Linked DNA regions of Homo sapiens. The protein of the gene in region 2 interacts with the protein of the main gene of each other region in a biochemical or structural test. Each region holds a gene or a part of one and is shown on either strand. Other genes may lie near its edges.

What was found.
Region 1: of the proteins of CDH1 (region 2) and CCNB1, one has a biochemical effect on the other in vitro, tested with the Homo sapiens proteins (3 studies listed by BioGRID).
Region 3: the proteins of CDH1 (region 2) and CTNND1 form a complex in vitro, tested with the Homo sapiens proteins (5 studies listed by BioGRID and IntAct, with this or other methods).
Region 4: the proteins of CDH1 (region 2) and JUP form a complex in vitro, tested with the Homo sapiens proteins (2 studies listed by BioGRID).

What each region holds. Positions count from the first base shown.
Region 1 is NC_000005.10:69,162,206-69,170,149, reverse strand, and holds the start of CCNB1 (G2/mitotic-specific cyclin-B1), read right to left. Parts: upstream 3,001-7,944; 5' UTR 2,888-3,000; coding exon 2,867-2,887; intron 2,243-2,866; coding exon 2,072-2,242; intron 1,978-2,071; coding exon 1,807-1,977; intron 1-1,806. UniProt on the Homo sapiens protein: Essential for the control of the cell cycle at the G2/M (mitosis) transition.
Region 2 is NC_000016.10:68,810,292-68,817,457, reverse strand, and holds part of CDH1 (cadherin-1 isoform 1 preproprotein), read right to left. Parts: coding exon 7,117-7,166; intron 5,775-7,116; coding exon 5,599-5,774; intron 5,324-5,598; coding exon 5,195-5,323; intron 4,146-5,194; coding exon 3,963-4,145; exon of another isoform or gene 3,896-3,962; intron 1,944-3,895; coding exon 1,699-1,943; intron 1-1,698.
Region 3 is NC_000011.10:57,813,403-57,820,740, reverse strand, and holds the end of CTNND1 (catenin delta-1), read right to left. Parts: intron 6,431-7,338; coding exon 6,368-6,430; intron 5,348-6,367; coding exon 5,241-5,347; intron 4,827-5,240; coding exon 4,740-4,826; intron 4,445-4,739; coding exon 4,433-4,444; 3' UTR 1,201-4,432; downstream 1-1,200. UniProt on the Homo sapiens protein: Key regulator of cell-cell adhesion that associates with and regulates the cell adhesion properties of both C-, E- and N-cadherins, being critical for their surface stability.
Region 4 is NC_000017.11:41,783,293-41,792,157, forward strand, and holds the start of JUP (junction plakoglobin), read right to left. Parts: upstream 3,420-8,865; 5' UTR 3,296-3,419; exon of another isoform or gene 3,211-3,295; intron 2,816-3,210; exon of another isoform or gene 2,725-2,815; intron 2,685-2,724; exon of another isoform or gene 689-2,684; intron 1-688. UniProt on the Homo sapiens protein: Common junctional plaque protein. The membrane-associated plaques are architectural elements in an important strategic position to influence the arrangement and function of both the cytoskeleton and the cells within the tissue.

The DNA.
Region 1 (7,944 bases), on a different chromosome or scaffold from region 2:
TAAAAAAATAATAAAAAAATTAGCTGGGTGTGGTGGCTGGCACCTGTAATCCCAGCTACTCAGGAGGCTGAGGCAAGAGAATTGCTTGAACCCAGGAGGTAGAGGTTGCAGTGAGCCAAGATCGTGCCATTGTGCTCCAGCCTGGGTGACAGAGCAAGACTCTGTCTTGGGAAAAAAAAAATAAACAAAAATAAGACTAAGGCTGGGCATGGTGGCTCACACCTGTAATCCCAGCACTTTGGGAGGCTGAGGCGGGTGGATCACGAGATCAAGAGTTCGAGACCAGCCTGGCCAACATAGTGAAACCCCGTCTCTACTAAAAATACAAAAATTAGCCAAGCATGGTGGCATGTGCCTGTAGCCCCAGCTACTTGGGAGGCTGAAGCAGGAGAATCACTGAACTCGGGAGGCAGAGGTTGTGGTGAGCCAAGATGGCACCACTGCACTCCAGTCTGGGCAACAGAGTGAGACTCTGTCTCAAAGGGAAAAAAAAGACTGATTCTAGGAACAGGGGGTGGAGATGGGGGAAGTTTGGGAAAGCTTCAGGAGTTGATGCTTGAGCTGTTTTCAAGGATGAAAAGGTTATTAGCTAAATGAAAGACAGGGTGGGGAAGGCATTCTTACTAAGTGGGAAAGCAAAGGTAAGAATCAGTATGGGCCTTCCAAGAAAGCCTCACGTAGTTTGATATGCCCAAAGACTGTGCTGGCTACATATTTCATGTGCTATGCCCAGAAATTCAACACTAAAGCAATAGCTTTCAATCTCTTATCCTTAGATATAAGAAGCTGAACTGGCTGGGCGCCGTGGCTAACGCCTGTAATCCCAGCACTTTCGGAGGCCGAGGCGGGCGGATCATGAGGTCAGGAGTACACTAACATGGTGAAACCCCATCTATACTAAAAATATGAAAATTAGCTGGGCGTGGTGGCGTGCGTCTGTAATCCCAGCTACTAGGGAGGCTGAGGCAGGAAAATTGCTTGAACCTGGGAGGCAGAGGTTGCAGTGAGCCAAGATCACGCCACTGCACTCCAGCCTGGGCAACAGAGCCAGACTCTGTCTCAACAAGTTTTTTTCAGATAATTTTCCCAACTGGTTTTAACTAAGTTTAAAAAAACAGAGCTTCAGAATACAGTTCATTGCAATTTCATCAAAGCAGCCTCCTCTACATGACCTACCTTTCCTTCACAGGTAGGTCTATCATAGAATACATTTACATACCTTATATTTAATAAAAAGTTATTATTTTTGAGGCTAAGTGTTAATTCATCTTCTTAACCACTCCCTGAAAAGTTGCCTTCTTCCTGTTTTACTCCTTTGCATATTCCAATGTTACAGGCTTATTATTTAGTAGCCATATGCAGCAGTAAAAAAATTCAAGAGAACATTCTATGTTTACGCCAATAAATTCTGCAGAGATGGCTTGTAGTTGGATAACAAAGCCTTTGGCTCAGACAGCTACTACTTAATATCATTAACGAAGGAATATAAGACAGTTGACAATTAAAAGCATAGATTCTGAAGCCAGACAGCCTGAGCTTGAATCCCATATGGGCCACTTACCTGTGTGACCCTGACATAACCTCTCTAAAGCCATGATTTAAATAGTAGAGGTGACAATACCTCAGAGAGTACGTGTAAAGATTATGTGAGTTAATGCATGTAAAATGTTAGGCAGAGCTTGCCTCATGCTAAGCACTCAATAAATGGTATTAATATTACTATTCATTTGAATGCTCTTGCATGTATCAGTGAAATAAGGGACAAGAAATAATCAACAGACTCTACAATGGTAAGAATAAGTTTACCAAAATAGGCTCAGGCGAAAGTTTTTCTTCTTTAACAGGCTCAGGTTCTGGCTCAGGTTCTGGCTCTGGCACTGGCTCAGACACTGGCACTGGCACCAGCATAGGTACCTTTTCAAGAGGTTTTGGTAGTTTTTTATCAATGACTTTTCCAGTAGCTGAAGGTTTTGCTTCCTGTAGATGAAACAGAGAGAATGAAATGTTTCTGCATCAAAGGCCACAGTTGGAAGGCGGGCTCTTACAGAAGTTAGGTCAGGAAGAGAGTTACCTTCTTCATAGGCATTTTGGCCTGCAGTTGTTCACTGACTTTGTTACCAATGTCCCCAAGAGCTGTTCTTGGCCTCAGTCCGGGCTTGGAGGTTGCAGCAGGGGCCGTAGGAACGCGCTTTGCGCCTGCCATGTTGATCTTCGCCTTATTTTCAGCATTAATTTTCGAGTTCTGAAAGAAGCAAGACCACTTTAAGAGCTGATCCACGAAGGCTCGAGTAAGTCAAGGGTTAATTAAGGTGGGGCACAAGGAGAAGTTCCCAGAAAGAAAGCCGACTAAAAATGGGTTCCGAGGGAAAACATGGGTCCCAGAGTCTACTCTGCGGCCGTGACAAGTCAGTTTCCGCCGACCTCTACATTTACCAATTGAGGGATTCCCTGATTAGTCCTGGCCAGCCCTAAAATACCGAGAATTTACATTTGAAAGGAAACCGAAAAAGCCTCCAATTGCAGACACCTTCTCTCTGGGAAGGGGGTTACAGAGTTGCTGGCGGGCCCACTCAGGGACCCTCTATCACTTTTTCAAAAGGTTCCCAGTCGACTCTCCACCTCCCCAAAACATTTATCCAATATCCGTCCAGTTCTCTTTCTCACCTTCCTCCCTCCATCCATCGTCCCCCACACTCTCTCACCAGGCCTGGGCCCACCTCGGCGCTCTCTTGGTGAGTCCCCTCCCACCTTCCTCCCCAAATCGCTCCTGCGGCCCTCTCCCGCTCGGGAGGCTCCCGCAGGCGAGGCAGGGAGAGCAGGCAGCAGCTAAGAAGGCCGCGTTAGTTCGCAGTCCGAAGCGGCTCACCCTGGTGACTCGGAGCGCCATGGCTTCCTCTTCACCAGGCAGCAGCTCAGCGGGGAGAAGCAGAACACCGGAGGCCCGACCAGCCAAGGACCTACACCCAGCAGAAACCAACAGCCGTTCCGCCGCAGCACGCCGAGAAGAGCCAGCCTAGCCTCAGATTTAAACCCCGCACTGCTCCCTCCTTATTGGCCTGTTCGTGGCACTCACTCCCTTCCCATTGGCGGCTGCCGGTCGCAGAGAATGCGTTTCCAGGGCGATCGCGCGAAGGCGTTCGAGAGGGGCGGGGCCACAGTGAGGCTAGGCCGGAAGGCCTGGCCAGGCTCTCACGTGGTCTGCCTCTGCGCCTGCGCTCTCGGGCAGCTGCAGCGGCCACCTGGAGAGCAGTGAAGCCAGTGCGCCGCCCACCTGGAAAGGTTAGCCGGGCAAGAGTGTGCGTTGCCAATGCCAGCTCAGGAAAGGCCTAGTGGCCTTTGGAAGGTGACAGAGGCGCGGCCACAGTCTCAGAAGTGTCAAAAGTAGTTTTGGATCTAGTGTTGCACACTTTCCATTTCTACGGTAGCAGCAATAATATAGTTCATGAAAGGCTTTAATAGACATTCTTTCATTTGATCGTTGCAACAACTCTCTGGGTTGGAGGAACTGAAGCTCAGCGACTTAGATGACTTTGCCAGGGTCACACATTAGCAACGGGGGAACTGAATTTAGGGTTTTTTTTTTTGAGGGGGAGGGAGGGGGTGTATCCGTGTTGTTTTCACAACACTGATTGTCCCTTAACAATATTACTTGATTACTTCAAGATTGTCCAGTTTCCCAAGGCCAATTGTTTTGTTTGTTTTAGCTTTCTATTTGGAAATAATTTCATACTTAGACCAGTTGCCAACAAAAATCTTGTAAGGAATATTTCTATGCCCTTTACTCAGATTCAACTATCCTTAACATGTATTTGCCTCTCATGGGAAAATCAGGAAAAACTAAACAAAAAGACATTTTACCCCATTTGCTTTGTCATTTGCTCAGATTCTCTCTAGATCCAAAGAAAAACAAGAGGGTTCTTTTTGCCTTCTACTCCTCAAAACACACCAGCAGCTCAGCAATTGGAGGGGAGGCTGAAGGACAAAAACATTGCTATCCCATAGAGCAACGGTATAAGAGCCAATAGAGACTCCTGGCGCTGGAAGTCACGGATCCGAAAGAAGGCGCCCAATCATTTGGTTTCTTTGGATCGTTATTGAGTCTTCTGTCATCATAGTTCACCCTCCTACTCGAATGCCTCCCGTGGGGCCCTTACCCTTGCTCTCCTCTGCCTGGAATGCCCGCCTCTTCTTGCATTCAAGCCCCTGGGTTCTATTCAGGTAACTCCCATTCATCCTTCAGTTCTGTGTTCAACATCCATTCTCACTCAGTCTTTCTGGGTTTGATCAATCCTTCCTCGCCCCATGCAGGGGCGAGAGGCAAGGGGCGAAGCAGGATTACTTATCCTCTGTGTTCCAGTTTAAAAATTTTTTTTTTTACTTTTTTTTGAGACGGAGTCTCGATCTGTCGCCCAGGCTGGAGTGCAGTGGTGCGATCTCGACTCACTGCAACCTCCACCTCCAGGGTTCACTCCATTCTCCTGCCTCAGCCTCCCGAGTAGCTGGGACGGCAGGCGCCCGCCACAACGGCCGGCTAATTTTTTGTATTTTTGGTAGAGACGGGGTTTCACCATGTTAGCCAGGATGGTCTCGATCTCCTGACTTGGTGATCCGCCCGCCTCGGCCTCCCAAAGTGCTGCGATTACAGGCGTGAGCCACCACGCCCGGCCAAATTTTTCCTTTTATATGCTTTATTTTTTAGAGCAGTTTTAGGTTCGCAGCAAAACTTAGCAGAAAGTATAGAGCATTTCACCTGCCTTCCCCACTATTGACACCCCACATTAAAGTTGTACTTTAATTATAATCTGTTAACCTACATTGACACCACAGTATTACCCAAAGTCCATAGTTTACATTAAGGTTCACTCTAGGTGTTGTGTCTTCTACGGGTTTTGACAAATATATAATGACGTATAATGTCCACCCGCCTCAACCTCCCAAAGTGCTGGTATTGAAGGCGTGAGCCACTGCACCTGGCGGTCAGAATGGTTTCTTTTACTCAAATATGCATTTAAGGTTCTTCCATGTTTTTTTCATGGGTTGGGATCTCATTTTATTTTAGCCCTGAATAATATTGCATTGTCTGGATGTACTAGTTTATTTATTCAGTCACCTACTAAGTGACATCTTGATTGCGTCCAAGTTTTGGTATGAATATAACTGCTACTAACATCTGTGTGCAGATTTTTGAGTGGACGTAAGTTGTTTTTGTTTTTCGTTTGTTTGTTTGTTTTTTGAGACGGAGTCTTGCTTTGTTGCCCAGGCTGGAGTGCGGTGGCGCCATCTAGGCTCACTGCAAGCTCCGCCTCCCGGGTTCACGCCATTCTCCTGCCTCAGCCTCCCAAGTAGCTGGGACTATAGGCGCCCGCCACCAGGCCTGGCTAATTTTTTGTATTTTTAGTACAGACGAGGTTTCACCATGTTAGCCAGGATGGTCTCGATCTCCTGACCTCGTGATCCACCCTCCTCGGCCTCCCAAAGTGCTGGGATTACAGGCGTGAGCCACTGTGCCCGGCTGAGTGGACATAAGTTTTAAACTCATTTGGGTGAATACCAAGGAGCAAGACTGTTGGATCATATAGTATGTTTACTTTTGTAAGAAACCGCCAAACTGTCTTCCAAAGCTGCTCTACCATTTTGCATTCCCATCAGCAATCCTCACAAGCATTTGGTGTTGTCAGTTTTTAAAAAAATTGTAGCCATCCTATTAGGTGTGTAGTGGTAACTCATTGTTTTTTGATTTGCAGTTCTCTAATGACATATGATATTGAGTATCTTTTTCTGTGATTATAATCTGTATAACTTCTCTGTTGAGGTATCTGTTCAGGTATTTTGCCTAGTTTTTGTTTTGTTTTGTTTTTTGAGATAGGGTCTTACTATGTTACCCAGGCTGGAGTGCACTGGTGTGATCATAGCTCACTGTAACCTCAAACTCCTGAGCTCGGGCAATTCTGCCTCAGCTTCCCAAGTAGCTAGGACTGTAGGTGTGAGCCACTGTGCCCAGCTAATTTTTTTATTTTTTATTTTTTGTAGAGATGGGATCTCACTATGTTTCCAAGGCTCATCTTAAACTCTTGGCCTCACAAAGCACTGGGAATATATATATATATATATATATATATATATTTTTTTTTTTTTTTTTTTTTTTTTTGAGATGGAGTCTTGCTCTGTCGCCCAGGCTAGAGTGCAGTGGCTCGATCTCGGCTCACTGCAACCTCTGCCTCCCGAGTTCAAGTGATTCTCCTGCCTCAGCCTCCCGAGTAGCTGGCACTACAGGCGCCCACCACCACACCAGCTAATTTTTGTATTTTTAGTAGAGACCGGGTTTCATAATATTGGCCAGGCTGGTCTCAAACTCCTGACCTTGTGATTTGCCCGCCTTGGCCTCCCAAAGTGCTGGGATTACAGGCATGAGCCACCACGCCCGGCCGCACTGGGAATATTATAGGCATGAGCCACTTTGCCCAGCCTTTGCCCAGTTTTATTTTTGTTTTGAGACAGTGTCTCTATTACCCAGCTAGGGTGCAGGGGCGCAAACATGGCTTACTGCAGCCTTAATCTCTGGGTTCACCAGAGCCACCGCACCTGGCCTCAGACTAATATTCTTCTTTTTATTTTTTTTAATTATTTCTTTTTTTCTTCTTTTGTTGTTTTTATTTGTTTTTTGGACTAATATTCTTAATAGTACATTTTGTCATGTTTATTTTTAATTTTTATGCATACATAATAGTTGTACATATTTATGGGGTACATGTTATATTTTGATACAAGCATGCAATGTGTAATGATCAAATCAGAGTAATTGGGATATTTATCTCCTCAAACATTTATCATTTATTTGTGTTGGAAACGTTCCAACTCCACTCCTTTAGTTATTTGGAAATATACAGACTGGGTATGGTGGCTCATGCCTATAATCCCAGCACTTTGGGAGGCCAAAGCAGGAGTATCATTTGAGCCCAGGGGTCCGAGATCAGCCCGGGCAACCTGGCAAACCCCATCTCTACAAAAAATACAAAAATTAGCTGGGATTGGTGGTGTATACCTCTAGTCCTAGTTACTCAGGAGGCTGAGGTGGGAGGATCGCTTGAGTCTGAGAGGTTGAGGCTGAGTGAGCTGTGATTGCACTACTGCACTCCAACCGGGGTGACAGAGCAAGACCTTGTCTCAAAAAAAAATTAAAAAAGGCCGAGCATGGTGGCTCATGCCTGTAAGGAGCTCAAGGATTGCTTGAGCTCAGGGATTGCTTGAGCTTAGGAGTTCGAGACCAGCCTGGCCAACATGGCGAAACCCCATCTCTACAAAATATACAAAAATTAGCCAGGCATGGTGGCACAAGCCTGTAATTCCTGCTACTCAGGAGTCTAAGGCAGGAGAATCACTTGAACCTGGGAGGCGGAGGTTGCAGTGATTTGAGATCGCGTCACTGCATTCCAGCCTGGGCGACAGAGCGGACTGTTTCTCAAAAAAAAAAAAAAAAAGGAAATATATAAATATATACAATAAATTATTGTTAACTATAGTCACCCTAGGCCAGATCTAGGCTACGGAACACTAGATCTTATTCCTTCTATCTAATAGTACTTTTGTACCCATTCACTGTGATCTTTTTTTAAAATTTTAAAATTTTTGTATTATACTTTAAGTTCTAGGGTACATGTGCATAATGTGTAGGTTTGTTACATAGGTATGCATGTGCCATGTTGGTTTGCTGCACCCATCAACTCGTCATTTACATTAGGTGTTTCTCCTAATGCTATCCCTCCTTCAGCCCTCCAACCCCACTGACAGGCCCTGGTGTGTGATGTTCCCCACCCTGCGTCCAAGTGTTCTCATGGTTCAATTCCCACCTATGAGTGAGACCGTGTGGTGTTTGGTTTTCCGTCCATGTGATAATTTGCTGAGAATGATAGTTTACAGCTTCATCCATGTCCCTGCAAAGGACAT
Region 2 (7,166 bases):
CAACTAATTTTCACCCAATGGATTTGGCATCTGTGGATGATTCTTGCTGAAGCAATGATTACTATAATCCTTATTTATTTTTAAAAGCAGACTCCTGCAGACCAGCTCCCCCAAACAATACAGTAGTTCCTAAATGGTGGCAACATGCCACCTCCTCTCCTGTCATGAACATCTGGAGATGCAGGTTGCCCTGTTGACCTGTGGGTGGACTGCACTATTGCCATTTAATGGGAGGTACAGGGAGGCTAACAGAGATCTACTGCTCAGTTATTTACTAGGGTCATGGAAAGGCTCTGAAAGAGAAACTAAGAAATCAAAGGAGGAAAGGGCTCTAAGAAACTGTGGGCTTGGCCTCACTTCTTTGGAAGTGCAAAGCAATGAATTACATCAAGTGGTCATTGTTCCAGGCGTAAGGGCCTCTGGAAACAGACACTAAAGACCTGGTCCCTGAATCTGCCCCAGGAGATGCTTTGAACTATCTATTTCACTACTGCAAGCTTTCAACCCAGCCTGGAAACTGTACAATCCAGGGTTTCATCACTGAACCTAATCCTACATTATTGTCTTTGACTTTTCATCATTCTTTTAAACTTCGATTAAAACCCATCTTGCCAGGCCTTACAGTTTGGAGCATGTAGAAATATCTCTAGATTATGAGGAGTCCATTGGCTACACATAGAAAATGAGAGTTTTTTTGTTTTTTGTTTTTGAGATGGAGTCTCACTCTGTCACCCAGGCTGGAGTGCAGTGACTCGATCTCAGCTCACTGCAACCTCAGCTTTTTGGGTTCAAGTGATTCTCGTGCCTCAGCCTCCCGAGTAGCTGGGATTACAGGTGTGTACCACCATGCCCAGCTAATTTCTTGTGTTTTTAGTGGAGGCAGGGGTTTCACCATGTTGGCCAGACTGGTCTTCAACACCTGGCCTCAAAGTGATCCACCTGCCTAGGCCTCCCTAAGTTTTGGGATTACAGGCATGAGCTGCTATGCCCAACCCAAAATGAGAGTATTTTAAAGCAAGTGTTGTAGTTGGTTGGTTGGCATGTGGGTTCTCAGTTCTCAGCATCTGTGTGATTTACATTATAGAGGTACCTTCAAGTTTGAAAGGAGAAATACTGATAGTAAGCTACTTAGAACACAATACTATGGGCTGGGTGCGGTGGCTCACGCCTGTAATCCCAGCACTTTAGGAGGCAGGCAGATCACTTGAGGTCAGAAGTTCGAGACCAGCCTGGCCAATGTGGTGAAGCCTTGTCTCTACTAAAAATACAAAAATTAGCCGGGCGTGGTGGCAGGCACCTGTAATCCTGGCTACATGGAAGGCTGAGGCATGAAAATTGCTTGAACCCAAGAGACAGAGGCTGCAGTAGGCAGAGATCACGCCACTGCACGCTAGCCTGGGCGACAAAGTGAGACTCCAAACTCAAAAAAACACAATAGTATGTATGCAAAGTAAAATTGCATTTCTACCATACTACAAGAGCTCAAAGAGAGGCAGCACATCAGACCAAGAACGGCTGTCTGTGAAGGGAAGGGAACAGGTGAAAGGAGCACAGATAAAGGGAATAAAAAATAAATTAAGAGAATGGTCTTGTACAGACAAATGACAAAATGCCATGAAGTACATATTATTGATTTACATATAAAATGATATAAAATAACCAGTTGCTGCAAGTCAGTTGAAAAATCCTCACACTTACGTTATTTTCTGTTCCATAAATGTGTCTGGCTCCTGGGCAGTGTAGGATGTGATTTCCTGGCCCACGCCAAAGTCCTCGGACACTTCCACTCTCTTTTCAGGAGGCACAAAGATGGGGGCTTCATTCACATCCAGCACATCCACGGTGACGGTGGCTGTGGAGGTGGTGAGAGAGACCTCAAAAGGTACCACATTCGTCACTGCTACGTGTAGAATGTACTGCTGCTTGGCCTCAAAATCCAAGCCCTAGAGAGCAGAAACAATGAAGTTAAAAACAAAACGAAACATTTTGTGTTAGTAAAAATAAAATTAAATCCTTAACTGTTGCTTTTGGTAATATATTAGGTTGGTGCAAAAGTAACTGTGGTTTCTGCCATGACTTTCAATGGCAGAAACCACAATTACTTACCATGGCTTCTCAAATCTGCTCACCTACTCAAGAGGAAGGCAAAGCTGGGGCTATTCTAGGGATCCAGTCACTTCAACAAGCAATTCACTCAAATTCTTAGTTTTCAAGTTTCTTTCCTTATTTTATTTTTTTCTGAGACAGAATTTTTGCTCTTGTCACCCAGGCTGGAATGCAATGGCTCACTGCAACCTCCACCTCCTGGGTTCAAGCAATTCTCCTGCCTCAGCCTCCCTAGTAGCTGGGATTACAGGAGCCCGCCACCACACCTGGCTAATTTTTTGTATTTTTAGTAGAGACGACGTTTCACCATGTTGGCCAGGCTGGTCTCGAACTCCTGACCTCAGGTGATCCACCCGCCTTGGCCTCCCAAAGTGTTGGGATTACAGACATCAGCAACTGCACCCGGCCATCTTTTTTTTTTTTTTTTTTTAAGAGATGGAGTCTCATTCTATTGCCCAGGTTGGAGTACAGTGGCATGATCATAGCTGAGTGCAGCTTCAACCCCCTGGGCTCAAGTGATTCTCCCACCTCAGCCTCCCAAGTAGTTGGGCCCACCGCCATACACTACTGCGCTTGGCTAGTTTTCAAGTTTCTAGGACATTTTTCAAAAACAACCATATCTGCCCCACTTCTAAAATAAACCAGCACAAGAGCAGAGACCAGTAAATCATTTTCTCTGTCACCGCAAAATGGAAAGAGCTGAGGGAAGGAGAATGTTTCTGGGAAAGAGCCTATTAAAGCAGATAGTACTTCTTTTTCAATTTCAGGATCCTGTGTAACAGCTTCTTGATTTCTTTTTTTTTTCAGACAGAGTCTCACTCTGTTGCCCAGGCCAGGGTGCAGTAGCACGATCTTGGCTCACTACAACCTCTGTCTTCCAGGCTCAAGCGATTCTCCTGCTTCAGCCTCCCAAGCAGCAGGGATTACAAGTGTGCACCACCACGCCCAGTTAATTTTTGTATTTTTGGTAGAGACAGGTTTTCACCATGTTGGCCAGGCTGGTCCCAAACTCCCGACCTCAGGTGATCTGCCCGCCTCGGCCTCCCAAAGTGCTGGGATTGCAGGCATGAGCCACCATGAGCCACCAAGAAGCCTTAGCTTCTTGATTTCCTTTTTTTGAGACGAAGTCTCACTCTGTTGCCGGGCTGGAGTGCAGTGGCACGATCCTGGCTCACTGCAACCTCCCTCTCCTAGGTTCAAGCGATTCTCCTGCCTCAGCCTCCCTAGTAGCTGGGACTATAGGTGCACACCACCATGCCCAGCTAATTTTTGTATTTTTAGTAGAGATGGGGTTTCACCATGTTGGTCAGGATGATCTCGATCTCTTGACCTTGTGATCTGCCCGCCTTGGCCTCCCAAAGTGCTATGATTACAGGCGTGAGCCACCACGCCCGGCCTCCTTTTCCCCGCCCACCCCTGGAGACTGAGTCTTGCTCTGTCACCCAGAGCTGGAGTGCAATGGCACGATCTTGGCTCACTGCAACCTCCACCTCCCAGGTTCAAGCAATTCTCCTGCCTCAGCCTCCCTAGTAGCTGAGATTACAGGCACGTGCCACCATGCCTGGCTAATTTTTGTATTTTTAGCAGAGACTCAAACTCCTGACCTCGTGATCTGCCTGCCTCAGCGTCCCTAAGTGCTGGGATTACAGGCGTGAGCCACCACACACAGCACAGTTTCTTGATTTCTTACATGAGCAGGAAGAGCCACTGCAAATCCCACATGGTCCACTACAATCTGGGAAAGTCACCCTGTCCCCCTGCCAAAGCGAATCTACTTCTAAGAAGATACCAGGGGACAAGGGTATGAACAGCTGTGAGGATGCCAGTTTCTGCATCTTGCCAGGTACCATACAAACCTTTGCTGTTTTCAAAATGCCATCGTTGTTCACTGGATTTGTGGTGACGACAAATTGTCCACCATCATCATTCAATATGGTGTATACAGCCTCCCACGCTGGGGTATTGGGGGCATCAGCATCAGTCACTTTCAGTGTGGTGATTACGACGTTAGCCTCGTTCTCAGGCACCTGACCCTTGTACTGCAGAGCAAAGAGATGTGTCATTTACAAAGTACCAAGACTGCTAGCAGAGCTGAGTCTCAGGGGGCTAAAGGATTCCTCTTTTTTTGTTGTTCTTTTGAGATAAGATCTCACTGTCACCAGGCTGGAGTGTATTTGAGCGATCATGGCTCACTGTAGCCTCAACCTCCTGGGCTCAAGCAATCCTCCCACCTCAGCCTCCAGAGTAGCTGGGACCACAGGCATGCACCACCACACCTGGCTAACTGAAAGCAAGCTTCAAGGAGAAGATGTGACAAGGAGAGGCCAGGCAATGGGCGCACTGGGGTGCAATGGTACAATCTCGGCTCACTGCAGCCTCCGCCTCCTGGGTTCAAGCAACTCTCATGCCTCAGATGCCCGAGTAGCTGGGATTACAAGCATGCACCACCACGCCCAGCTAATTTTTGTATTTTTAGTGGAGATGGAGTTTCGCCACGTTGGCCAGGCTGGTCTCAAACTCCATCCTCAAGGGATCCACCAGCCTTGGCCTCTCAACTTGCTAGATTACAGGTGTGAGCCACCACGCCTGGCCATTATACAGGATGATTTAAACTTACCCTACTTGGTTCTCAATACCTTCTCCTTGAATGCATGTAATATCCTTGGCATACAATAATTCTCATAAGATGTCTTCCTGGCTATACCAGAAACACCATGAGAATGGAATCTTTGTGTGTGATGGTCTCTCCAGTGTCTAACACAGTGCCTAATATAAACTTAGAAAATATTTGTTCAATAAAGAAATGAAACCAGGTAATATTTGCTATAAAAATGTACCATGAGACTATGAAATCAGTAGGTGCTTTTTGCAACTTCACAATCTTGCACCAATTGGCCCCAGGCCAAGGGTGGAAAAAAGATACTAAAAGACAACTGCCATCTCAAGATGCTTGCTTTTAAGTTTAAAGTTAACATTCTCTAGTCTGGAGAGAGTTTTCAAAGACTTCGCCCATGAGCAGTGGTGACACTTAGTTCATGAACAACAAAAGACCTTTCTTTGGAAACCCTCTAAGGAGTTATAGAATTACCGTGGTGGGATTGAAGATCGGAGGATTATCGTTGGTGTCAGTGACTGTGATCACAGCTGTTGCTGTTGTGCTTAACCCCTCACCTTGAAGGTCAGCAGCTTGAACCACCAGGGTATACGTAGGGAAACTCTGCAGAGAGATCGACACAACCAAGTCAGGACCAGGAACACTAGCCACCTTTGGCCTAGCCCAGCCCAACACATGGAACCAGAATATTTAACCATGTGCTTCATGCCAGCCTGCCTGTCTTCTAGGCACGGAACCTCTGGGCACAAGCTTAGATGCAAAGCTTAGACCATCACTGTATTAACTGACAACTGGCCTAGCAGGATTTTGCTTTGTCCACGGGATTGAGCTAATACACATTTGTCCTCCACACCCTCTGGATCCTCCTGACCCCTGACCTCTCGGTCCAGCCCAGTGGTGACCACACTGATGACTCCTGTGTTCCTGTTAATGGTGAACATATTTTTGTCAGGGAGCTCAGGATCTTGGCTGAGGATGGTGTAAGCGATGGCGGCATTGTAGGTGTTCACATCATCGTCCGCGTCTGTGGCTGTGACCTCCATCACAGAGGTTCCTGGAAGAGTTCAAGGAGATGAAGGTTTAGACAAGCTGCACTTTGGGACTGGGTCAATACTGCTTAATCCAATTCTGCCCTGAGGGATAAAGGAGGGGACATGGGGGTGGTACCGTGTCAGAGTTCCCTAATTCCTAGAATTCTTACCAAAGTGCTAGGGGAGAAAGAAAGCTCAAACTATCAACTTATTATCCAGGTATAAATACACAAATGGTAATAAAGAAAAGAAAGGGAATGATTACCACAAAAGTCAGGGTGTGGTTATCTTTTTTTTTTTTTTTTTTTTTGAGACGGAGTTTTGCTCCTGTTGCCCAGGCTGGAATGCAATGGCGTGATTCGGCTCACCACAATCTCTGTCTCCCGGGTTCAAGCAATTCTCCTGCTTCAGCCTCCCAAGTATCTGGAATTATAGGCATGCGTCGCCACGCCCAGCTAATTTTCTATTTTTAGTAGAGACAGGGTTTCTCCATGTTGGTCAGGCTGGTCTCAAACTCCTGACCTCAAGTGATTTGCCCACCTTGGCCTCCCAAAGTGCTGGGGTTACAGGTGTGAACCACCACACCCAGCCTAGGGTGTGGTTATCTTTATGGAGGAGAGAAAAGAATGTGACCAAGGGGGATTGTTTAGGGCTTTAAGGTACTGGTAAAGATCTGTTCCTTAATTAGGAAGGTTGTTCTTAGCCAGGTATAGTAGCTCATGCCTATAATCTTAGCAGCTTGTGGGGCTGAGGTGGGAGGATTGCTTGGGCCCGGGAGTTTGAAAGTAGCCTGGACAACAAAGCAAGACCCTGTCTCTGAAAAAAAAATTTTTTTTTTTTTGAGACGGAGTCTGGATCTGTCACCCAGGCTGGAGTGCAGTGGCGTGATCTCAGCTTACTGCAACCCCCGCCTCCCGGGTTCAAGCAATTCTCCTGCCTCAGCCTCCCAAGTAGCTGGGATTACAGGCCCCCGCCACCACGACCGGCTAATTTTTTTGTATTTTTAATAGAGACGAGGTTTCACCATGTTGGTCAGGCTGGTCTTGAACTCCTGAGCACAGGTGACCCATCCACCTTGGCCTCCCAAAGTGCTGGGATTACAGGCATGAGCCACCATGCCCAGCCTAAAAAAAAAAAAAATTAATAATAAAAAAGGGAAGATTGTTCTTAAACTCTCCCTATTTTATATGTTTCCACAGGTAGACTGTTACACACATGCATATAACACAACAATGGCTTGCCAAGAAGTTCTGTCCGTAGGAAGGATCAGCTTTAGTTACACAACCTTTGGGCTTGGACAACACTTTGGGGTCCAAAGAACCTAAGAGTCTTTCTGAGTATTCAGATTCTCATTAGTGGATATACCTGGAAGAGCACCTTCCATGACAGACCCCTTAAAGACCTCCTGGGTGAAT
Region 3 (7,338 bases), on a different chromosome or scaffold from region 2:
TTATGCCTGTAATCCCAGCACTTTGGGAGGCCTAGGTGGATGGATCACCTGAGGTCAGGAGTTCAAGACCAGCCTGGCCAACATGGTGAAACCCCGTCTCTACTAAAAATACAAGTATTAGCTGGATGTGGTGGCGGGTGCCTGTAGTCCCAGCTCATCAAGAGGCTGAGGCAGGAGAATCGCTTTAATCCGGGAGGCAGAGGTTGCACTGAGCTGAGATCGTGGCATTGCACTCCAGCCCGGGTGACAAGAGTGAAATTCCGTCTCAAAAAAAAAAACAAAAACAAAAACAAAAAAAAAGAGGATAACCTGGATGACTTACCATGATTTTAGATTCCTCAGTCCCACCTACTGAATCGATTTTTGGAAATGGAACATGGGACTCTGCATTTTCAACAAGCATACAGGGAATTCTTATGTAACTTGCTCAGATATACAGGGCTAGGTCTAGTCAATTCCATCTATGAAAATATTAAGAACCTTTGCTTCAGATATAAAAATAGACAAAATGAGAAAAAAATGATATGGAAAGACTGGTTCTTAGTTCTTCCTGGGTGAGGTGATTCCAGTTTGTAGCAAAGAAAATTAGTTCAGCAAGAAAAACAAGTGGCCGGCCATGCGCAGTGCCTCACACCTGTAATGCCAGCACTTTGGGAGGCCAAGAAGGGTGGATCACTTGAGGTCAGGAGTTTGAGACCAGCCTGGCCAACATGGTGAAATCCTGTCTCTACTAAAAATACAAAATTAGCCAGGCGTGGTGGTACACACCTGTAATCCCAGCTACTCGGGAGGCTGAGGCAGAAGAATCGCTTGAACCCAGGAGGCTGAGGTTGCAGTGAGCCGAGATTGTGCCCCTGAGTGACAGAGCAAGACTCTGTCTAAAAAAAAAAAAGTGGCCAAGTGAGGTCCCAGCTTTGACCTCTGTCACAAAGTACATCAGTGTCAAGAAACTTGTGAGATAGGGCCTTTACACATCATTCTGTGTAACATCTCATTGTATTTAGATATGGCACAGAGAGAAGTGTTTTTAAGATCATAGATCTTGTCTATGGCCATATCACCCTGAACGCACACGATCTCGTCTGATCATAGATCTTAGCTATAGAGGATTCTCATGGATTGCAATCTATGAGAAAAGATCCATCTGTTTCACTCTCTAATCTAAACCTAACCTTGACACAACGCTTAGCATATAGGAGGTGCTTGGCAAATATTTATTGAATGAGATAAACAAATGGACCAATCCAGAAGGAAGAGAGAAGAGTAGGGTTTGTATCTAGCTCAATGCCAAAGGATAAGAACATAACAGGGAAATAAAGTGTTGCTGACAAGCAGCCAGGCTTTTCTATTTAGATAAAAATCATCTCAAGCAGGGCTATCAAAACTCTTTGGAAAGTAAACTCTTAATAGCTTTTTGGCTTTGTACTTCAACCTCTAATCTAACACTACAATTGTTAGACACAAATCAAGCTTTAAAAGCTAGTTGATTTCCTGGTCTCACTAGCCCATGAAAGTTTTCATACCCAAGTCCTAGTTCAATAAAACAAGACAGGACCATCATCAGGAGCAGCTATATAATTTTAATCTAAAGATTTGGGCATACAGAAAGCATTTCACATAAATTCTCTTGAGTCTTTAATTATATGACAGGACATAAGGACCTCAGAAAAATAAGTATCTTCCCATAGATCTTAACCCTTGATCTCTGCAGCAAAGATAGTCCCTGGTAATCCAGGTAATATGGTCTGTAAAATATTAATAAATAGGCCTATTGACTTCTGACTAAAGGACTGCATATAGCCTGAGAAGCAACATTATGGCCCAGTGGTCAGTACTTATATACATGGGCCTTTTGATCCTACATTTTCCTATTACGTAGTTGGGATTGGTAGTTTCTAATCTTCTAGTCCTAAGTGTTATATTTAAGAGAGCTACGTATTACAGTGGGCCTTATTCAAGGTTAGTTTTGTCAAATGTTGCAGAAGAATTCCAGTAATTAAAGTAAGTCATTAATTCTTTATGCTTCAGTTTCCTATCTCTAAATTAGCAATAAGCTCCCATGTTCAACTTCAGCCACATTCAATTTTTAAGAATCTTCAGAAGAAAAAATGTTTCACATATAGTTAACAAGAATGTTGCTTGATAAAGAGTTGGGGCTGAGCTCAAAATAAATCCTGGTATAACCTCCTTCTGGTTGCTCTGGAAAGGACACTGATACATAAGGAAGTAACAAAGATGCAAAGCAGGGAAGAAATAACAGCTTGAAGTGAAGAAATGACACAGACCCCCCACATACACACTTTAAAAACTTTATTTATATAAAAAACTCATTTGTTTTTAAAAGCATTAACAAGACAGAAAGAAAAGAGAAAAGGTATGGAGCAGAACACAAGCCCCTTAGTAGTGTTCGGTGGGAAGGTGGGATTTTTGGTTCTCTGGAATTGAATGTTTAGTGTTTTTTATAAACAAAAGAGAGAAAAAAAAGTTAAAGGTCCCCAAAAGCCCACGGCTGTTCTATTACCCACACCCCACCGAGAAAAAAGAGCACCAGGAAAAGAGCAGAAGAGGACAAGAGAGATCAAGAGTGGAGCCAGGTCTGGATGGGGCAATTTTCCCTGTGCAGTGTGCTCTTAGGGTCACAGAGAGCAAAAGGCTCCTTTTTGCCAGAAAAGGTAGATGAAAGTGGGAAGAAATGGGAAGGGGGAAAAGGGTAAATAAGAAATTTTAATGCACGAGTAAAGGGGGTGGTGGGTTGTGCACTTTTCTCCTACCCCATAGCCTCAATATATAAGGGAAGGGGAAGAGAGGGATAAGGAACTCCAGTTGCATGGAACAGAGCTTTTAGATTAGATTAAGGGGAGTAGAAGGCAAATAAGGAAAAGGATTAGAAATAATAATAATAATCAACCCGCATAGCAGCTGATTTCTCTAGCCCAACCTGCTAATTAATATATGCTAAAGTGAGAGGGGGCAATACTGGAGGGAGGGGAGAATTGGGGAGACCACTTCCCTGTAACTCCTTCAGAGATGATGGTAAATTCTGGGCACCTAAGGAGTAAGAGTCACACCACTCACTTCTCTTACCAGCCTTACTTTGAGATTCATCAGAATAGGATTTTTGCAAAATCCCACCCATATGCTGTTGAGCAAAAGCTTGCTATGACTGAAATCATGGCTATACCAATCCTCAATGAAGAATCTGAGGTTCTCTCGGTCACTTCTCTTCTTTCTGCTATTTAGGGCCAATAGTAGGTAAGAAAGCAACAAAATATAATTTGCAAAATTATGAGAAATGAGACTGCAGAGGCAAAGAAAGGCACATGGAAGGGCGGGAGGAGATGCACCCCAGGCCAAAGGCACAAAGAAGAGGCAAAGCCAGGGGCAATCCCCACCTTGTAAGGGAAAAGGGACAGGAGTTATGTACATCAAGTCCTTTAGTTTGCCAACCAATCCAGGGCAGAGGCAAGGGACAGGCCTATAAGGATAGGAAAAGGAGAAACGGGGGAGTGGGGAAGCCAGTTTCAGACTAATTGCTTCATGTACATTCCTACTAGCTCCTCCTAGAGGTCTTCTTCTTCCCAAAAACACATCTTTCTGCTCCTTCTCTACCAAAAGTCTTCCTTGACATTCTCCCCTTTCTACAGCCTCTTGGAAATGGCCAGGCCAACTCAGCAGACATATCACAGGGCAGGAGAGGTGGGTTAAGGACAGCCTGTGTTTAAGGGGCAGCAGCAATAGCCCAGGGTTGGCATGAGGCTTGCAGAAGAGATGGAGTCTGTAGGTTCTTGATGGTCCCTGCCTTGGAGATGAGGAGAGCAAGGTTTCTTAATCCCAGTTTTAGGAGACCTTCACTTACTCAAGGGTCCTTTGCCAGGTGGCATGTGCCAATGTTGCTGGCCTTCTTTGCTTCAAAAATAGCCATTAGGAATAAGGGAAGAGCTCACACTTTCCCCTCTCTAAAAGAAAATAAAAGTCCCTTCCCCATCAGGAAAAAAATCTTGATTAAGAATCGTCAGTTTATCAGACTGCTGGACATTGCATATACAGCATGTAACTTCCAATTCTTCCCACGGCTTCTAGTGAAGATTCCTATTCTCTCCATCCCTCCCCTCCACAAAAGGCCAGGAGTTCCAGGGAAAACTGGCAAAAAGAACTAATCTGCAGCAGTTTCTCAAAATATGCAAATAATTGAGTCAGGTTTCTTGGGAGAAAAATGGAGGGAATGGGGGAGGGGGAGGCGTTGAGACAATTAAACTTCACAGGAAGAAGTTGGGAGTTGATGGAAAGAAGGCAGCCACTTAGGGCTGTAAGGGCAGGAGGCAGCCTGGCAGTTGGCACAATAGTCCAGCGAAGAAAAAGGAAAATCATCAGTCAATTTCACCACCAAAAAATAAAAGTACATATAAGCCCAGATGGAACGGAGATAGTGGTGCTAAATCTTCTGCTGTGGAGAAAAAAGAGAAAGAGAGAATGTTAATGGGGTTGGGATTAAGGAGACCCCCCCCAAAAAAGTTGAGCAAATCTGGAGAAAGGAAAGCAGCACATAACGGAGAATCAGATCACCAGCTGCATGTCCCAGACTCGTAAGAGGTAATAATCACAAAAGCAGAACCCCTCGAGCCCCATGTGGCTGAGACTACTTAGTCTCTGGCCTGATCAGATTAGCGTGATTGACAAGTTGCTGGCACTCAGGAGCCTCCTTCCTCAAGAACAATCTTGGGGGTGACTGAAGGACATACCATGGAGGGGTAAGACACTTGGCCCCCCTCATCATCCAAAACCAACACATCCAACTCTTCCTCCAGAGATTCCTGCCCCTCGTCCTGCTGTGAACACATGCAATTTGTTAGTATGAGTAGAGACAGGAACCTCATGAGTGTGTGCCAGAGCTAGGGAAACTCTGAAAATTTGTAAACTCAAACAAAACAAGATATAATAGTAAGAGAAGGGCAAAACATTCATAAACAGGGAGGGAGAGGAAAAAGGTAATGTTTGAAAGTAGATCAGTTAGTGTTAGTCATATCAGTAACACTTTTACAGACATGCTTCCCCCATTTTGACCACTGCAGAATAACGGCCCAAGAAATCCCAACATGAGTCAGAACTCTTACTTTTTCCTGAAAACCCCTACCAGAAAAGGATGCGATCTTTCTCTGTACTTTTTTTTGTGTTTCACAAAACACATAGGCTTCAAAATAGAACTAGCCTTAGACAGATAGCAGTATATAAAGAGAATTTACCATCAAGGGTGTTGTTCCCTTCAATGGCTCCATGTCGCCTAGATCCCCCGATCGATCCAGTGTTCTATTGTGGTCTCCTCTCTCATTTGGTGTGGAATAGTTGTTATCTGGTTAAAAAAAAAAAAGTACACAGAAATATGACATTCCCCTCTAGTGTAAAACGTATATCAAACAGATAGGTGTAATTAGGCATCACTGTTGGGAACTGAGCTTGTCAAATGCTCCACAAAGGCATTAAAGTCTGATGGTCCCCGACTTAAAGAACTTGAATCTGGCTGACCGTGGTGGCTCATGCCTGTAATCCCAGCACTTTGGGAAGCTGAGACGGGCAGATCACTTAAGGCCAGGAGTTCAAGATCAGCCTAGCCAACATGGTGAAACCCCATCTCTACTAAAAATATAAGAATAAGCCAGGTGTGATGGTGTACACTTGTAGTCCCAGCTACTCGGGAGGCTGAGGTATGAGAATCACGCCACTGCACTCCAGCCCAGGTGAACGAGTGAGACTCTGTCTCAAAAAAAGAACTTGAATCTAAGATGGAAGACAATATGTATAAAATACCCAGAATATGACATAATAAAGCTAAACAAGAGGTTTGTCTGAAAAGGTTATGGGAATTAAAAGAAGAGCGAGTGAAATATGCTGCAATCGTTAGGAAGGACCTGACAAGGGAAAACAGGACTTGAGTTAAGCCTTTGGAGATAAAGAGAATTTAGAAAGACAAAAGGGAAGGACATACCAGTAAGAGGTATTACATGAGCAGAATCAAACTATAGAGTGAATAGATAGAATAGCAAGCAGAATAGTTGGGCAGAAACAGATGTATCCATTCACTCCAGAGAAGGAGACTGGGGTAGGAATATAATGGGCTACAAACTTGAATGTGTAGTAATAGGAGAGGCATAGAAAGATTTCTGAAAACCTTTGAGCATGTAGGAATGTAGAAAAAGTAGACGGATCAGATTTTATTAAATTTCCTTACATCCTTCAAAATGGAAATGATCAGCCAATGCTCTCCCAGGATGGTAAATGGTAAGGGTATTAGAAAAAAAACTATAGAGCTAGACAGCTCTCCTTAGCCAGTGAAATATTACTCCACATCCTTAGGCAGGAATTAATCACCTACCTAGTGATTTTGTGTTTGATCCCATATTGCTCATCTGAATTTCTTCCCGATCAGGTTTCTTATCTGTATGAAGTCAGAAAGTTATCCATGTCAAAAACAATTCTTCAAAATCTGTACACATCATGAAAATTGCTCTCTGGTCCTCCTTCCTTCCCTTCATTCACACTTCTACTTAGCACCAACTATGTGCATCACAATGCCTGGATAATTTTTAAGCTTTTTGTAGAGATGAGGTCTCACTATGTTGCTCAGGCTGGTCTGAAACTCCTGGGCTCAAGTGATTCTCCCACCTCAGTCTCCCAAAGTACTGGGATTACAGGTGTGAGCCATCACACCTGGCCCCTACAGACTCTTAAATCAAAAAACAATTCCATCTAAACTAGCAGTTTTCAAATTATTTGGTCTCAAGGCCGTTTTACAGTCTTAAAAATTATAAGGATCTAAAGAACCTTCATTGGTGTGAGTTTTATGTATTAATTGTTACCATACTGACAAGTTTAAAGTATCTATTTCACTTAATGGTAAACTTCTTACATGTTATCATAAATAATCTTTAATAACATCCTTTTCATTTTTGTATATCTCTTTGAAATTTGGCTTAGATTCTCATACCTGCTTCTGCATTCAATCTTTTGTGATATGTTATTGTAGTTAATGTATATCAAGAAAATCCAGCCTCACACAGATAAAAAGTTGGAAAAGAGGATGATTTTAATAGTCTTTTCAGATAATTGTGGTTATTCTTCTTTAATAGTATACTAATTAGTAGTAGTTTCTTAAAGGTTGACAGTAATGTGGAATCTATAATTAACAATCACTTCATATTCTGTTTAGTTAAAATCCATTGGTCCATCTTGCACTTTTAACGGATCAATTACCTATGTACGATTTTGACATATGTATTTGTCACTTGCAAAATACTGCTTCAAGTTATCCAGATATTCAAAATGCTAACACATAGCATTACACAA
Region 4 (8,865 bases), on a different chromosome or scaffold from region 2:
TGTTTTTTTTTTTTTTTTGAGTCAGGGACTCACTCTGTTGCCCAGGCTGGAATACAGTGACACAGCTCACTGCAGCCTTGACTTCCCTGGGCTCAGGTAATCCTCCCACCTCAACATTCCCAGTAGCTGGGACCACAGGCATGCACCACCACGCCCGGCTAATTTTTCTATTTTTTTGTAGAGACAGGGTTTCTCCATGTTGCCCAGGCTGGTCTGGAACTCCTGGGCTCAATCAAGCAGTCCACCCTTCTGGGCCTCCTAACGTGCTGGGATTGCAGGTCTGAGCCATCCAGCCTGGCCAGCCATAAGGATTAAGTAAAAATAGTTAATGAAAGTGCTTGGTTTGGGCCAGGTGAGGTGGCTCACGCCTGTAATCCCAGCACTTTGGGAGGCCGGGGCGGGCGAATCACGAGGTCAGGAGATCAAGACCAGCCTGCGCAACATGGTGAAACCCTGTCTCTACTAAAAATACAAAAATCAGCCGGGGGTGGTGGCACACGCCTGTAATCCTGGCTACTCAGGAGGCTGAGGCAGGAGAATCACTTGAACCCAGGAGGCGGAGGTTGCAGTGAGCCTGGGTGACAGAGCGAGACTCCATCTCAAAAAAAAAAAAAAAAAAAAAAAAGAAAGTGCTTGGTTTCTGTAAAGTCTTACCTTGATCTTGAGTTACCGTTTGTCAAGTACTTACTGGGTAGATAGGTATTAGTATTCCCATTTTGCCAAAGAGGTCACTGAGGCTCAGGTAATGAGAGACAGAGCTGGGTCTCAAACCCAGCTCAGTTCAAGCCCAAAGCCCTGTGCTCAGAACTGCCCCACTGTCCCATCTCTCCAAATAAACAGTCCTTCTGTAGACTAGTCAATTGACCCATCTCACTCTAAGGTGGCTCCAGGATGGGAAAAAGGTTGGCAGCCCTAGCCCGACCTTTTTCGTTCCTATGCACTGCATTCTCAAAGCCTCGGCCCTGGCAGCCCAAACAGAGGCTCCAGAGGGAATGGGGTGGAGCCAGGGTGCAAGGGAGGGGTGGAGTGGGGGTGGGAGGGCTCAAGTCACCCAAGCTGGGGCTTGATCTAGCAAGAAATGACTAACTGGGTCCTACCTTCTCCTCCTCCCCCGCATCCCCCAGTCCAGTCAGTGGCCAGTTTTCACCAAGCACCTCCTAGCAGTACTTCCTCAGTATTATCTTTTCATCACAGCCACAAACCAGATTAGCTAAACTAATCATGTAGCCAACATAATTACAATGCCCTCCCCTCCTCCACCTTGGCACAGAGAAGAGGGAAAGCAGGTTATTTTTGCCCAAACTCCCTGCTCCTGTTGCTCCCCAGAGGTGCAGAATCCCATCCCCCGGCAGAAAAGGATCTGAGTTCCCACACTGACTTCCCCCTAGCACAGGGCTGAGCGTGATCCCCACCCAGGATAAAGGGGCTGAGTCTGGGCCCCCAGCCTCACTCCCCCATCTACAACAAAGAAAGAGGTGGTAGACTCTTCCCCTCCAAGCACTCTCGATCCCCGCCCCCCACAATCTTTCTCCCACCCCCAGGACTGAGAGAGAACCCAACTGTTGTATTCTCTCTCTGTTCCCCAACGAGGCTGGGCTCCAAATCCTGCAAAAAGACCACATTTCAGATTTTTTTTTTAAACCGGGGTACAAACCCTGATCAAGATCCCCAATTCTGGGTGGGGGGGGGCGGTCTCAGGAAATTGGGAGCAGGGAAGGCAGGGGGCCCGATGCAGCTCTGCCTGAGAGAGTCTAGCATTGAAGAAACCTTCCCCCAAAAAGCCTTCCTGCGGTCTCACTTTCCCTGTCAAATTCTTTCAGGAAAGCGGGTGGGAAAGGTCTGTGCAGGCCTCCAGAAAGCATGCACCTTCACAATTCAGAAATCAAATGGAAGGCAAGTCCCACAGCCTCATGCGCTTCTGCCTCAATAACCAGCCAGCTAAGTAATGTGGGGGATGGGGTAGAGGCAAAAAAAAAAAGACAAGAACAACCACTCCCCCCACCTTCCTCAGTTTGGCCCAGCCCTGCCCCACCCCCATTCCTGGGGAGGGGGCAGAGCTTGAGAGACAACCACTTACGCAGGCCTTGTCTGAGGGGGTGTGGTGGTCCCAGGAGGCAGGAAGAGAAGGAAGAAGCTGCTTCCCCTCTCAGCACTTTCCACCCCCCACCCCGGCCCCTACCTCAGGCCCCTGGGGCCCAGCGAACAGGATGAATGTGGGGGCAGGGAAGACAGGGTCGGAGCCCAGGCACCGGCCCAGGTTCAGCCAGGGGCCGGCTGGGGGAAGGGGTTTTGCACCAGGAAGGACCCCCTAAGCCTAAAGGAAGTTTTGGGCAAGGAGACGGGAAAACCCCCAGATAAAGCTGCTGTGAATACTTCCTCCTGCAAAGTTTGTTTTGGGTGATTTTTTCCAACAATAAGAGGTTAGAGAAGACGGGTCCTGTTCCCCTACCAACACTCTGGCAGCCACAGCTACTGGAAACTGGGCCAGGTGACCCTGAATTCTTCATCCGTGCACAGACCCCACCCCCCAGACCCCAGGGCGAGCCACGGGTGCCAGACACCAGCTGGACACTGAGCCGAGCCCTGCACCCCCCAGTCACTCCATCCCACCTCCGCTGAAGAAGCCAGAGCCGGGCTCCCACCGGCGTGGAGGGAGGCGCCGCAGGTAGTATCGACGAGGCTCTGGGAGCTGGAGGGCAGGGCCTCTGGACTCCGTGCGCTCACCTGCTCGGCAGGTGGGGCCAGAGTCGCTGGGAAAATGTGCGCTCGGCCCCCACAGTTGGGCAAGCTGGGCGCAAACAATAGGGCCCCACCCAGGCCTGGGGGAGTAGGGAGGGAGGGAAAGCGAGGATGACGCGTGGGGTGGGGTGAGGGTGGCCCCAAAGAGACCAGCGGCAGCAAGTTCCCCAAACGGTAAATTCCTGACTGCAGCGTGAGCCCTGGGACGCAGTCGAAGCAGAGCAAAGTCTCCCCCGCCAGCCCAGGGCGAGAGTCAGGGACGCGGCGTCGGGCGAGCTGCGCGGGCCCCGGGGGAGGCGCGACCCCGGAGGCACCTGTCCGGATCCCTCCCCGCCTTGCTCAGATCTCTGGTTCGCGGAGCTCCGAGGCGCGCTCGGCCCGAACCGCGCGACCCCCAAGTCGCCGCGCCCAGGACCCCAGCGCGCCCCCTGCCGCCGGTGCAGGGTGGCGCTCGATGGCACCGGCCCTCACCTGCCCAGGGACGGCTGGGACCGGCCCCGCGGCCGCTCGCCACCCCTCTGTCCCCAACGATACCTGCGCCCCCGATAGCCCGCACCTGAGTATGGGGCCTGACCGGGCCGGGTCGGGGTCGGGCCGGGGTGGGAGCCGGCGCGGACAGCGAACTGAGCTCGGCGTGGTCGGGCGGCGGCTGCTCCGGACTCTGGCCAAGGCAGCAACTCAGTAACCGAACAAAAGGCGAAGAGACCTGACAGCCAAGCCACGCCCCTCGCCACCTCGAAGCTCCGCCCCTGGGGGAGACGCCCACCCTCTGGTGCGAGCTCACTGGCTATCTCGCCTGACTGTCCCGTGGAGGGGCGGAGCCTCGCCTCCAGTCCTCTTCCACGGCCGCCTCTGTTTATCCGCTTGCCATTGGCCCCGGGGACTGCCAGTCGGCTCTAGGGATGGACTCTAACTTGAGGTCTCATCCTAACATTGCATCTATTGGCAGATAGAAAGTTACTTCCTCCTGATTGGACAAGGCTCTGTCAGTAAGACTAAGGAAAAAACCAATGGAAGGGATGGGGTGTGTCTTGCCCCACCCTTGCTCTGAGCAGGTGAGACTCATTACTCTCCCCTTCCCCCTACCTGTCCAACAGGTAAGTCATAGGGATACCAAGGGAAGGGACAGACGCCTTCACCGGCCAGCCAACTCAGCGTCAGGCATGATGCTTCTTTGGGCTTATTCATCCTTGCCCCAAAGTAGTAATCACATATTTGTATAGCATTTCATAGGCTTTGTGCTGGGGTGGGATTTTTTTCCCGAAAGATGGAGTACTCCTGGGATTTAGAATTAGAAGGCCAGGTTTGGTCTTCTCCCACTTGGTATGATTTTAGGCAAGTTACTTCACCCTGTTTCTCCTCTTCTGTAAACTGGATACATTAGCCATATCTACCTCACTGGAGTATGTGGGGATTAAATGAGGTCAGGTTTGTGAAAGCACTCAGAAACTGCTAAAGGTTAGAAATTTAAATTAACGGTATGTTTTTTTTTAATTATTGTGACAGCTCTGAAAAATAGTTAGGATGAGAAAACGACCCTCATTGTAAAGATGAAGAAACCGAAGTTCAGAGAAGTCACAAAACTACAAAGTGGCACACCCCAAGCTAGAACCTCCTTCCTCTCATTTGAAGGACCATCAAACCAGCTGTTCCCCTCATGGAAGAGGAGCATAGACATAAAATGTCAAGGCAATGGGGAAGGGGCAGAGAAAAGGCACAAACACTTGGAGGAGAGACAGAACAATTAATTGGCACAAAAATACAGTATTGGTGTCAGGAGGCTTTGGTGGGCTTGGAAACATCAAGCAGCAGATCTGAAGGAAATCCAGCCCTGGCATGAAAGAAACGGGGCAGGCCAGGCGCAGTGGCTCACTCCTGTAATCTCAGCATTTTGGGAGGCAAAGGCGGGTGGATCACCTGAGGTCGGGAGTTCAACACCAGCCTGGCCAATATGGTGAAGCCCCATCTCTACAAAAAATACAAAAAGTTAGCCGAGCGTGGTGGCGGGCAACTATAATCCCAGCTGCCTGGGAGACTGAGGCAGGAGAATTGCTTGAACCTGGGAGGCGGAGGTTGCAGTGAGCCGAGACCATGTCACTGCACTCCAGCCTGGGCATGACAGAGCGAGACTCCATCTCAAACAAAAAAAAAAAAAAGAAAAGAAAAAAATAAACCGGGCAGCACACCCCTCTGCGATAGGAGAGCCTGGGGTAGAGATCAGAGAGAACTTCTCGGCCAGGCGTGGTGGCTCATGCCTGTAATCCCAGCAATTTGGGAGGCCAAGGTGGGCAGATCACTTGAGGTCAGGAGTTCGAGACCAGCCTGGCCGACATGGTGAAACCCCATCTCTACTGAAAATACAGAAATTAGCCAGGCATGGCAGCGGGCACCTGTAATGCCAGCTACTCGGGAGGCTGAGGCAGGAGAATGGCGTGAACCCGGGAGGCAGAGGTTGCAGTGAGCTGAGATCATGCCATTGCACTCCAGCCTGGGTGACAGAGTGAGACTCTGTCTCAAAAAAATAAAAAGGACTTCTCACAGGCAGCTTAAGAAGACAAGGGCACTTCCTTTCTGTGGTTGATGACATGAATGCTGCTCGTGGCTGTATGGTGTGCCAAGGGCCCTACAAACATTCCTTCATTCAACACTTGAGTATTCATTGTCAACTGTATGTTAGGCACTGGTGAACACAGAAAATAAAACCTGGTGACACAGGAAATAAAAATGATCCCAACCTTCAAAGAGCTCATAGAAGGATAAGCAGAAGCAGCGTGTGTGGGTGGGTTTTGGAGGAGTGGTGGTTTAGAAAAGGGTCCCCCATCAACAAAGCTCTACAGCCCCAAAGCTAGCACACAGGATGGGCTGGATGAAGGTACCTTAGCAGCAACCTTGACCACTTTCCCCACCAGAGAAAAGAATGGTAGCTGAACATTCTCCCTTCTGAAGTTGCGCCATCCAAAAGCAGGGCCAGGGAGATACGGACATCCCTGAACTAGTGGCCATCCCATAACCAGGGCCACCGCCCTTTGCCTGTTTCCTCAACTCTCCATCCTCCAGCTTACCTCCCTATCTTTATCCCTGCCTTACCCCTGCCCCATCCACCTGCTTGTCACCCTGTCACATAGAGCTGTAGCCAGGCCACAGCTGGGGAAGGAATGGGCTCACAATCCTGGACTGCTGCAGCTGCCAGGGTTTCATTTCTTCCCCCTTCTGCCCACCTCCCACCTCCACACATGCACACACACATACGTCCCAGCTCCAAGCCTGGCCTGACTCCTTCCTATTTCTCCTGACCTCAGCAAAGAGGCAGGGTAGGGCTGGTTGACTGCAGAGAGGGGTGGAGGAGCCCATGTGGGTGGAGGAGCAGAAATAAGGTTTCAGAATAAACCGTGTGTGTGTGTGTGTGTGTGTGTGTGTGTGTGTGTCTCCCCAGAATGCCCCCTGCGTGTCTTAGCATGGAACATGTTGCATAACACCAGCCCCAGAGCTAAACACACAGGCTGGGACTGGTGGAAGCACCACCACAGCAGCGGCAAAGACTGGGATTAGAGCTGAGTCTCTCCTCCCAGATCAAGGGATTCTCTTTAAGCACCTACTATGTGCCTGGCAGGCACTGAGATTCATCTGTATCTGAGAATACAGAATAGAATCAGAAATGATGTTTCCTAGACTCAGCTGTCTGCACAGGCAATTTGGTCTCTTGTGAAAGGAGGTATGTAGGGATAGGATGGGGGTTTCTGTGACCACAGTCTCCCCTGTAGCTTGAACTTGAAGAAAAGGCCGCAAGGTCATCTTATCCAGTCCCCTGCCTGCAAACCTTTAAAGGCAAGAATTCTCTGACAAATGTCCAGGAAAGAAGATCCTGCAGCCTCCCTTATGGTGAATGCCCCTGTCTCCTTGTTCTAATGTCCAGCCTCAATTCCTATTCCTGCAGTTTCAATTCCTTCCTCTTGCCCAGGGCTCAGTGGAAGCAGAGTCCATGGGCTGCCAAAAACACATATGGGTAACTCAACCTTGCAGCTTGCTAGTGCTTCAGAGTAGAGAATATAAGGGTACCACATGGCCCATCTCAAGCTGCTGCAGAGACAGAAGTAACTGGCGCAGAGAGGTTCAGTGAGGGACTGGTGGGAGGGAGGCTCTTTTCTAGGGGAGGGTGCACACCATCAGCCAGTGTCCAGGACCACCAGGCCACCGTCCTCTCCTTATCTCACAACCCCCCTCATCTTCCACGAGGCCTCTGGGCCATACAAGGAGATGGAAGAGTTTCTGTTCTCCATTCAAACACAGTCCTTAGGGCCGGGCACAGTGGCTCATGCCTGTAATCCCAGCACTTTGGGAGGCCGAGGCGGGTGGATCATCCAAGGTCGGAAGTTCGAGACCAGCCTGACCAACACAGAGAAACCCCATCTCTACTAAAAATACAAAAAATTAGCTGGGCGTGGTGGCACACACCTGTAATCCCAGCTACTCAGGAGGCTGAGGCAGGAGAATCGCTTGAACCCGGGAGGCAGAGGTTGCAGTGAGCAGAAATCGTGCCATTGCACTCCAGCCTGGGCAACAAGTGCGAAACTCCAGCTCAAAAGTAAAAAAAAAGAAAAAAAACCCACAGTCCTTATTCTATGGGGGCCTTTTCCCCAGAGACAGGTAGAAATTTAGACGTACACAAGCCACACACACACACACACACACAACCTTCTATGCTCACACCTCAGGGATATACACTTGCGGGTGCAGATTCAGATACACAAACACCAGCTTTCTCTAATACACGCGCGCGCACACACACACACACACACACACACACACACACACACCCTTCTTCCTGCCTCTTCAGCCTCAGGTAGCCTAAGACATAACCACTTCTATAAAGGGGAGCCCAGGGTGACCAGCTGGGTTGCCAAACTTCAGGCTGATGATGGTACATTTTCATCACCCAGTAGCCTCTTCCCCGCGCTTTGCAGCAGCAGAAAAGGAAATCACACAACGGGAGGTTCTTCCCGGATGGCAGACTTGAAAGAAAGGCAATGCAGAAAGCTAGAGGCACCTTGGGTATGAGCCATCTCTCAGCCCAGGGACAAAGCCAGCCTTTTTTTTTTTTTTTTTTTTTTCTCAGAGACAGGGTCTCACTCTGCTGCCAGAACTGGAGTGCAGTGGCGAAATCACAGCTCACTGCAGCCTCAACCTCCTGGGCTCAAGGGATCCCCTAGCCTCAGCCTCCTGAGTAGCTGACCACAGCCGCTACCACACCCAGCTAATTTTTTTTCTTTTTTTTGGTAGAGATGAGGTCTCACCATGTTGCCCAGGTTGGTCTGGAGCTCCTGGCTTCAAGTGATCCTCCCACCTCAGCCTCCCAAAGTGTGGGGATTACAGGTGTGAGCCACCACACCTGGCCAGAGCCATCTTTACACCCAGTTTCTCTCCAGGTCCTGGCCTGTTTTTTGTTTTTTGTTTTTTGTTTTTGGAGTCTCACTCTGTCACCCAGGCTGGAGTGCAGTGGTGCGATCTCAGCTCACTGCAACCTCCGCCTCCCGGGTTCAAGTGATTCTTCTGCCTCAGCCTCCTGAGTAGCCGGGACTACAGGCACGTGCCACCATGCCTGGCTAATTTTTTGTTTTTTTTTTTCTCAGTAGAGACGGGGTTTCACAGTGTTAGCCAGGATGGTCTCGATCTCCTGACCTCGTCATCCGCCTGTCTCGGCCTCCCAAAGTGCTGGAATTACAGGCCTGAACCACCATGCCTGGCCGATCCTGGCCTTTAAAAGGCCTCCACTCTGGCCCTCCTGGGGTTGCCCCCTCCACACAGGGGCAAAGGGACAGAGGAGCCTACATGGACTTCACATTCCTTCTAGACCACACTCCAGGGACCAGCACCAGAAACTCTGGAATTCCTGCCCAACACTGACCCTACTTTCCAGGCCTGCAGGTCGCTGACTCTGGTCCTTCTCCCCAGGAGCAGCGGCACCAGTGCTACTGTGCATGGACACACTTGGGCCAAACTAGGGACATGACAAAGGGCAGTTATTGCTGGGGTGGGGAGATAGAGGCAGCATGGATGCGCGCTAGGAAATCTCCATGCAAGGGCTGGAGGACCTTGTGGCGCAGGCAGAGCCAGAGGTGCTAAGGAAAG